3 separate regions of the Homo sapiens genome follow, and all the other regions are linked to region 2. The links come from fine-mapping of genetic effects on gene expression. A gene starts in region 2. Each other region holds a variant in brackets. All regions are shown on one strand. Distances are between the middles of the regions. Region 1 has its middle 29 kb from the start of SAYSD1. Region 2 holds the start of SAYSD1 (SAYSVFN motif domain containing 1). Region 3 overlaps GLP1R (glucagon like peptide 1 receptor).

Region 1 (2,762 bases), 29 kb after region 2:
TTACCTATTTTACCACTTTATCTGCAGAATAAATTCACAGCCCACTAAACTATCAGGCTCCAAATAATTTTCATTCATTTTGAAAAATCAAATATACTTTCAGAGGAAAAGATTTGCCACCATGAAGGATATTCAAAGGGATGTGCCCAGACTCTAAAGATATCTATTTACACCATTTATATGTGTGTGTGTGTTTGTGTACAGTTGGTATTTAGTAAAATCCTTAGCCCCTCTGAATCCCGCAGACAGATCCACAGCCGGTGCTGTGATGCTGAGCCAAGATTCAGGATGATGGACAGGGGCAGGGAAAGATTGAGGACCAGGATTCACTTTGGAGCCAGCCAGACCTGGCCCCCAGGCTCAGGGAAACCCACTTTGGCTGGGTGACCTCCATCAGTCACATCATCCTTTGAAGTCTCAGTTTATTCATCAGGAAAATGAGGACAATAACATAAGTCTCATAAAGTTTGAGGATCGTTAAGTGTTAACTTCATAAACAAGCAAAGAAGAGGCACCAGTGGCTGGGAACGTTAATTCTAATTAAGGCATAAGGCATCAACATGCTTGCATGATATCTCGTGTAGCAGGAAAAGATGGAGTCAGAGGAAAAGGCAGATATGCAGGCTTAACTCTGTCCCAGCACACCTTCTAGAAAGAAAACAGCTGTCTCCTGTAATGTCCAGCTCCCCTGCCCTTCCTAGGTGGAAGGGTGGTGTTTTGTTCTCTCCCGAGGAAACCATTTCTCAGTCTCTCACCTGGTGTAGTCCATTGGGCCCTGAAGCTACCAGGCCAGTTTCAGTCAGTGTTTATGAAATGCCTTTGCCGGAGGCTACCTGATTGGCTTATCAGCCCTGGCCCTGGTAGCATTTCCGTACAATGAGCAGTGACATTTACAGCTTCAAGAAGTGCAAGGGAAACATTTTTCTTGCAGACTCCTCTTTCTCTCTCTAATGAAGCGGTCATTATAATCTTTCAGAGATGGTGCTCAAAAATGTACCCTAGCTTCCCACAGGAGAAACACTGTAAATGTCAGACACCCGATCACACTGTCTGTCTGGAGTGCATAAAACCAGCTGCTTGAACGCTGGAAAACAAAAGTCATGTTTCTTCCTGTTCTGCAGCCAAGCCTGGCTTCCGCGCATGTGACCTGTGCGGTCGCGCGGAGTCCTTCACTCAGAAGCCTCTGTTCTTGGTTTAATAATCTGCATCTAAAACTGGCACTGTACCATATAAAAATGAATCATAAACTTTAGGCTAAGAATTTACGCTTCTTTGTTTTTCTTTACATAGTTACTTAATGTATTAGTCTGTTTTCCCACTGCTGATAAAGACATATCCAAGACGGGGTAGTTTATAAAGAAAAAGAGGATGAATGGACTCCCAGTTCCACGTGGCTAGGCCTCACAATCATGGTGGAAGTCAAAAGGCACGTTTTACATGGCAGCAGGCGAGAGAAGAGAATGAGAGAGCCAAGTGAAAGGGGAAACCTCTTATGAAACCATCAGATCTCGTGAGACGCATTCATTACCACAAGAAGAGTATGGGGGAACCTCCTCCATGATTCAGTTACCTCCCACCCACCCTGCCAACAACA[T/C]GTGGGAATTATGGGGGCTACAATTCAAGATGAGATTTGGGTGGAGAGACAGTCAAACCATATCACTTAGTCTTTACTTAAAATGGGGTCTCACTAAGTTACCCAGACTGCTCTTGAATGCCTGGGCTCAAGCAGTCCTTCTTCCTCAGCCTCCCGAGTATCTGGGACTACAGGTGTGGACCACCATGCCTGGCTCCCTCTTTGTACTTTAAATAGCAAATAAAAAGCACCACAAGTTGAGGGATTGCAGAAGAAAGGAGAAAGCTCTTTGTTTTTGTATATGTAACAGCACTTTTGTTCTGCTTTTTGAATGAGGAGCGCTGCATTTTCATTTTGCACTGGGCCCCACAAATTATGTAGCCAGCCCTGTCTGAAGCAGTGTAGAAATAACAGCTGTCTTTATCAGAAGGATAGGAAATAAAAATAAACACAAATTATGAGCACTCTGGCATAACTCACCTAATGATAACCCCTCTCATTGAGACCTCCCTTCTCAGTGTGTGGGCTACTCACTGTCCATGTTTATTCTTAACTGCACTGAAAACTACCCACTGCTGGACACATGTTTCTCTCCATTTCAGTTGCTTGATATTTGATATTCTGAGATTGAATGTAGAATACTGTTTCAGGAAATTACAATTTCATAAACCCTGTGTGAAAAGAAAAGACTCTTCTTTGTCCCTGGACATCTCTCAAAGGCCCTGTCTCTCCATCAGTCTCTCTGCCTCCTGGCTCCTTCTCTTCCACCACTGCCAGTTTTCTCACCCACTTCACATTTCCTGGAGATGTTGGACTGGAGTCACTAGTGGCCCAGAATTCAGACAGGCAACCATGCTCTCCTCTACAATGATAGTGCAGGACAGTAGACAGAAGCAAACATATCTCAGTCACATACTCACCCCCACTTAGGTCAAGCCACACTGATGAACCACAGTTTGGCCTGAGTTCAGCTAAGTGGGATTTCCCAAAATGTGCTTTGAGGGATACTAAGCCCTGAAGATGCCCTATGAGAAATGTGTTCAGCGCTCAAAGGTATTCAAGAAGAACTGCATAATTGCTCCTCTTTTTGAAGACTCACAAAGCACGGTAGCATCATTAAAGGCTCTGAGAAGTTCTGCAGCAGAAAACAAGCACACAAAACATCCAACCTGTTTCACTTTGATTAACC
Region 2 (2,762 bases):
ATTGCATGGGTTAGACATTGTTTTTTAACTGCAGAGAGAAAAAGAATAAGGGAAATGGTTTCTAAAATCTTAAGCAAGTGTTGTACTTAGAAAGTTCTAGTCAACAATAAAATTATCCAAAGACAATTAACACAAACTGCACACAAGGAAATGGATTGTCTGAACTCTGCTGCGCTCTTTTCACCTTTCTGCAAGTCAGCTGGAATCCTGTATATCACTGAGAATATCAAATCAAAATTGAGTAATAGGTTCAGTAATTTTTAAAAATTCCCTCAAATCAAATGTTGTGCAATAATAGATGAACTTACAGGAAATAATTTTAAGGTGAGCAAGGTACACTTTTCTTCCAGTATATTTTCATTTTAAAAGGAATTTTTTAGTTCTTATTGCACTTATGAGGAACAAAGCACTGGGCACAAATTGTTACAAAGCACTCATCCCTTGATATGTTTTGTCTTGTATTTCCACATAGACATTTCAACCTCACTGCAAGCCACCTTACCATTTTACTGAGTTAAAACTAAATGAAAACACAAAAGGATGCAAATTAAATTCATCTGCAAAACAAGAGATTACCAAAACAATTAAATGTGAAAAGGTTATCATACTAAATCACTTTTTTTTGTTTGTGTCTTGAACATTCACTATGGAACTGGAATAAGCTTCTGCCACTACCGGCAGTTACAGCTACCACACTTTGGTAAATTCTGTATTCAAACGCATTTCTAAGTCACAGGCTATCTGGGCTACTAGCTGCATGTGCCCCAGGTGCGAATCAAATGAAGTTTTAATTACTGCTACTTGTGATCGGTATCCAATTAGACCTTTTACCCTCCTCCATTAGCAGAGGGCTGTGGCTCAACTTGGTTGTGGAGAGGTTTCCCAATGCCACAGGGCGTCACGATAACTCAATTCGGAGTGAATAATTTAAGAGCAGAGGTGCTTTCTCCCAGGACCCTCGACTCTCGCTGGAATCAGGACCTGCGTGGGTCGCGGGCTGGAAAGAAAATGTCAAAACTGGTAACAGTGCTGACACGTGTGGCCGGAGATGAGCGGTCCGGCCCTCGATCAGGATGGGGGGCCAGTAGCCCCGCCTCCGGCAGCTAGGGCCACACCCCCGGCAGCTAGGGCCGCGCCCTCGACTGTGGCTCCGAGGCCAGGTCCTAGGGCCGAAGTTTCCATCGTCTCACCTGAACTAGGCCGGGCTGGGCCCGGGCACTCGCGGGCCTAGGTTTCCATACCAGGAACCGCTTTAGCCAGCCTGGGGCTGCCTTTAGAGTCGCTGCTGCTTCCGCCTTCTCTCCTGGGGTTTGTGCGCCCTGACTGGCAGCAGGGGGTTGGGCCGCCAGACCCGCCCGTTTCCGCGCCGCCCGAAACTCAGCTAACCGCTGTTCCATGGCGCGCGCCTCGCGTCCGTTGGCCGATAAGGGAGCGCGCGCCCGCAGGCCGCACAGCAGTTGCCTCCGCTCGGCCCGCGCCGGCCGCCGTGCGCCTGCGTGGCAGAAGCCCCTGCTGAGCATGCGCACTGGTGTGACCCGCGTCTCCTCCGTTTGTGAAGTCTGGCGGGTCGCGTGTATACTCAGCCGTTCTCTCTTCACAGGCACGTGGACACAGTGTCACCTCCTCAAGCCAAGTCTAAAGCACAGGGCTGCCCCATTGCCCTCTCCCAAAGGCCGCTCTGCCTTGCTGCATCTCACTTAAGGGCTCGAGGCCCCACTGATCCAGCGTCCTGTATTCGGGATCTCTGTTGCTGGGCCCCAATGAACAGCGCCACAGTGAGAAGATGGTTCCAGGGGTTAGGAGAGGCCCGTGATCTCTACGACATTCCAGCGTCAGAGGAATAACAGGCTACATCTTACCCTTTTTCTCTTATCAAGGAAAGGGTATGCCAATCTTAGTACCTGGAGGGTGACTTTCTCACTGCTCACAAAGCAGGCTGTGCAGCTCCATCATTGGTCTTGCCACGTTGGGAAATTATCTCGTTTTGTGTCTAGATACGTCAGAACCTTAAAAAAACCAACAACAAAAACTTTTATTGGGGTGCAACATAAAATACACATCTTAAGAATATGACTCAGTAGATTTGCTCTTATGTATGCACCTGTGTAACTACCACCCAGATGGAGAGAAAGAACATTTCTGTACTCTGGGAGTTTCCTTGTGCCCTCTCCCAATCAGTACCCTCCCAAAAGGACACAGTTCAGGTTAGGGGCTGTTTTATACGTTCTTAAAGCTGTAAGCATCTAGCTAAGTGTCACTTACATAATTAAGACTCAAATATTTGTTGGATCTGGCTGAGGGTGACTCGAGAAATTAGACAAATTAGAACAGAGTCATCCATTCATTTAACAGACGTTTACCTAGGGCCTGCTCTGTCTAAAGTCACAGGCACTGGGGATGCTGGGATGAAAGGAAAAAACAAACAAAAACCTGTTTTCTTAGAGCTTACACTCCAAATGGAAATACAGACAATAAACAAATGTGTATCTACATATTTCATGTCATATCAGGTACTGATAAGTGCTGTGAAGAAAAGTGAAGCAAAGTAGGCAATGGTGGAGGTATTAGAGAAGACCTCCCTGAAGGTTTGTCATTTGGGCATAGACTTAAATGAGTGAGGTATGTAGATATCTGAACAGGAGTGTTTCAGTCAGAGGAACAAGTGCAAAGGTCCCGAGGCCTCAAATAGCACGCTTGACTTGTTCACAGAACATCAGGGAGGCTGTTATGACTGGATTGGAAGGAGGGAGAGGGAGGCAGGG
Region 3 (2,762 bases), 24 kb before region 2:
ATCTATTCCAAAGGTTTATTTTCCCTCTGTTGAATTGATTCTAATCTACAGTGCTTACCCTGCTTTTGGCTCCTACGAGGCAAACTATAAAAATTCTCAAATAAAATACAGAGGCTTACTCTGCAAAGACACCTGTGTGAATGACGTGCTAAACATTCAGCAGAAACCAAATTAGGATCAACTCTTAACATTTTTTCCCTCTTTTGTGGCTGGAATGAGTTCCCCTGGGAAAGAAAATCGCCCAAGTGAGAAACTTATGCCAACCACATTCCCATGCCCCTACAGTTACCTGCTGGCCCAGATCAGCTCTCTGGGTCTGCAGAGGGCCGAGACAGGAAGCATTATTAAGCAGTATAATTTCAAACACTTTACTTAGTGCCACAGTGTGTCTGCAGTATCTATAAGTACTTCCGCTCTGTCAAGGAATACAGACTGGCAGGAAGCAGATAAGCATAATTGTTTTCCAATAACTCCCCAAGTCTCTTGGAATATATATGTATCTGAATCTCTCAGAGGAGAGAGTTTTCTCTCTTCTTTGGCCATTTTAGCCTATTTTCCAGGACCTTGTCTAGCAGTGGCTCCATTTTTCCCCGATGCATCCAACTTCCCTCCCTGCACTCCTCCTCCCCGACAGCTGCCTCAGGAATAGGTGACCCTGCTGGCCATACTGTGAATGCTGTTCTTTCAGCTGTGACCAATTTGGGGGTGCAGCTGAGAGTGAGGTGCTGTCAGGGCTGAAAAGGACGCACCTCATTCTACATTTGGATGTGATGAGGAGCAGGGCAGCCACCAGCTTGGATCCTAACTTACATTGGGTGGTGCAACCTTTCTGACGGGGCCTGCCAAACTATCAGTAATTAGCCAGCCTAGACAATGTAGCATGACTAATTATTGCTGTGTCAAAGCAATTCAGGACAAGAAAAACATATCTAAATGAGAATGTTTAGATGTGGTGAGAAAAGAGCTCTCACCACAATTTGAAACATATAAAAAGTTGAGTTCTTTGCAGGGGAGCCAACGGGGGCATTGAGGGAAGGGCAAAATTCACCCCAGACAGCCAGTGCTTGATCTTGCCAAACAGTTTACACTTTACCTCCAAACCTGCAGTTCTAAGCTACTCCACTAAAATAATCATCCCATCCTCAAAGCAGACCAACTCCAGCATCCCATCGGTTCTGGAGGGATTTGATGCAAACCTTTAAATGCACCAACAGAGAGGTAAGCCAAGCTCTCAGGAGGGACAAAGATAGATTTCTATCTTCAGTGCTCTTGGGGGATGTTTGCTCCTCATGAGTGTTTAAACAAGATCATTTCCAGGTGATTTCTTAACATATAAATTCCTGCAAAATAGGACCAGCTTCTATAGGTAGCGAATGTGTAGGTCATATAATTCCTTGTACAGATGTGAATGGATGCAGACTCTTTCCTAATTTGCCTTGTAAGCCAAATAAAAGTCTGTCTCTACTGTCTCTCTTGCTCTTCCTTTGCGAAAGGAGGCTTTCTGCAATGTCAATCCAGGTGACTCACAGTGCAGTGGGAAAACACAAAAGATGCCGTTTCCAGCCAAG[G/GA]AAAAAAACCTTGCTCATTACTCACACCGTGATTTTCATCTTCAAAGCACTCACCAAGTACTAATTTATCCATCGCAGCCTTTATGCAGGGACTGCAATGTCATTTAATTAGAGAAGTTGGGTGGTCGAGTGGCTTAAACAATAACTGATGGCCAAATGGATGTGTATTTTAATTCCGCTCATTCATTCGATCTCTCCTGTCTAAATGAACTCAGTCCATTAAATCCATTAAAAAAAAAGTCATAAAAGCATAAGCTTTGTTTGCAAAGCAGCCACAGAATTTGAATGGAACTGCTGTTTAGAAATTCATCTTCAGAAAAAATGAACTTTTCTCCAATTTAAATAATCACTCACTCTCCAGATTTGCAACTCACTCTTATAGAAGGGCAGAGGAATTGCAGATTCTCCTAATTCCCCCATCATTTCAGCTACACCTATTTGAAGGTCGGTGTACTTACCTGAAAGTATCTTTAAACATCCGCTTTTTAGACAAGCTGTGGTAATTGTCCCTTTCAAACATAAGAATAATTCTTACCCTGAGAGCAAGTTATACCTACAGCCAACTCCTGATAGCAGCAGGTGGAACATCTGCATTTGTTTCTCTGCACCAATCTTGCTTTTGAGTTAATTCCCTCCCCTATGGATATTCTTACCTTTCTGTGCCCTTCCCCTTCCACTTAACAGGACCAAAATAGAGGTTTTTATCCCCTCCCTACCTTCCAGGAAAACATCCACCCAAACCAATTAATGACCACCACATTTCTAGGTAGCTATTACAAATAATAGAAATCAGGTAGAAGTGCACCTTCTTTCTCTGAGGTTGCACTGTGGCTTAATAAGGGCTTGACCTCAGCCTAAAGAAAGGGGGTTGGGGAGCTGCCCTGCTGTTCCGAGGCCTAGCCACTGGGGAGACAAATGAGAATTCTTGGCTTCCAGACTCATTCATCCTCACATGCAATATAAAGCCATATTCTAGTGACTGCTGCCCCCAGATGGGGAAGACTGTGTTCCACATAGAGTTTGTGAAGGATCTCACTCACATGCCATGCATATCAGCATTTTCAAGGTTTGAGAACTCCTGTCCCCTTCCCTTATTATCCTCTCAAAACCCTGTGCCATGAACATATGGCAGTTCAGTCTCTTTCAATCTCTGTCTCTGTCTCTTCCTCTGTCCTTCCTTTTTCCCTCCTTCCC

Evidence for each region. PIP is the estimated chance that this variant, and not a neighbour inherited with it, causes the effect.
Region 1: its variant is fine-mapped to the expression of SAYSD1 in whole blood (INTERVAL, PIP above 0.99).
Region 3: its variant is fine-mapped to the expression of SAYSD1 in esophagus mucosa (GTEx, PIP 0.91).

Annotation. Positions count from the first base shown.
Region 1 is chr6:39,142,599-39,145,360 of GRCh38, forward strand. No RefSeq gene overlaps it. Among named protein-coding and RNA genes, the nearest start is that of SAYSD1, 29 kb to the left of the region's middle. The variant T/C (reference allele first, on the strand shown) is at 1,595.
Region 2 is chr6:39,113,693-39,116,454 of GRCh38, forward strand. It overlaps SAYSD1 (SAYSVFN motif domain containing 1), which reads right to left and starts at 1,494. Exons shown (of 2, transcript NM_018322.3): 1 at 1,191-1,494. The coding sequence starts at 1,397. RefSeq lists an enhancer at 1,088-1,377.
Region 3 is chr6:39,089,835-39,092,596 of GRCh38, forward strand. It overlaps GLP1R (glucagon like peptide 1 receptor), which reads left to right. Exons shown (of 13, transcript NM_002062.5): 13 at 1-1,469. Among named protein-coding and RNA genes, the nearest start is that of MIR9983, 17 kb to the left of the region's middle. The variant G/GA (reference allele first, on the strand shown) is at 1,569.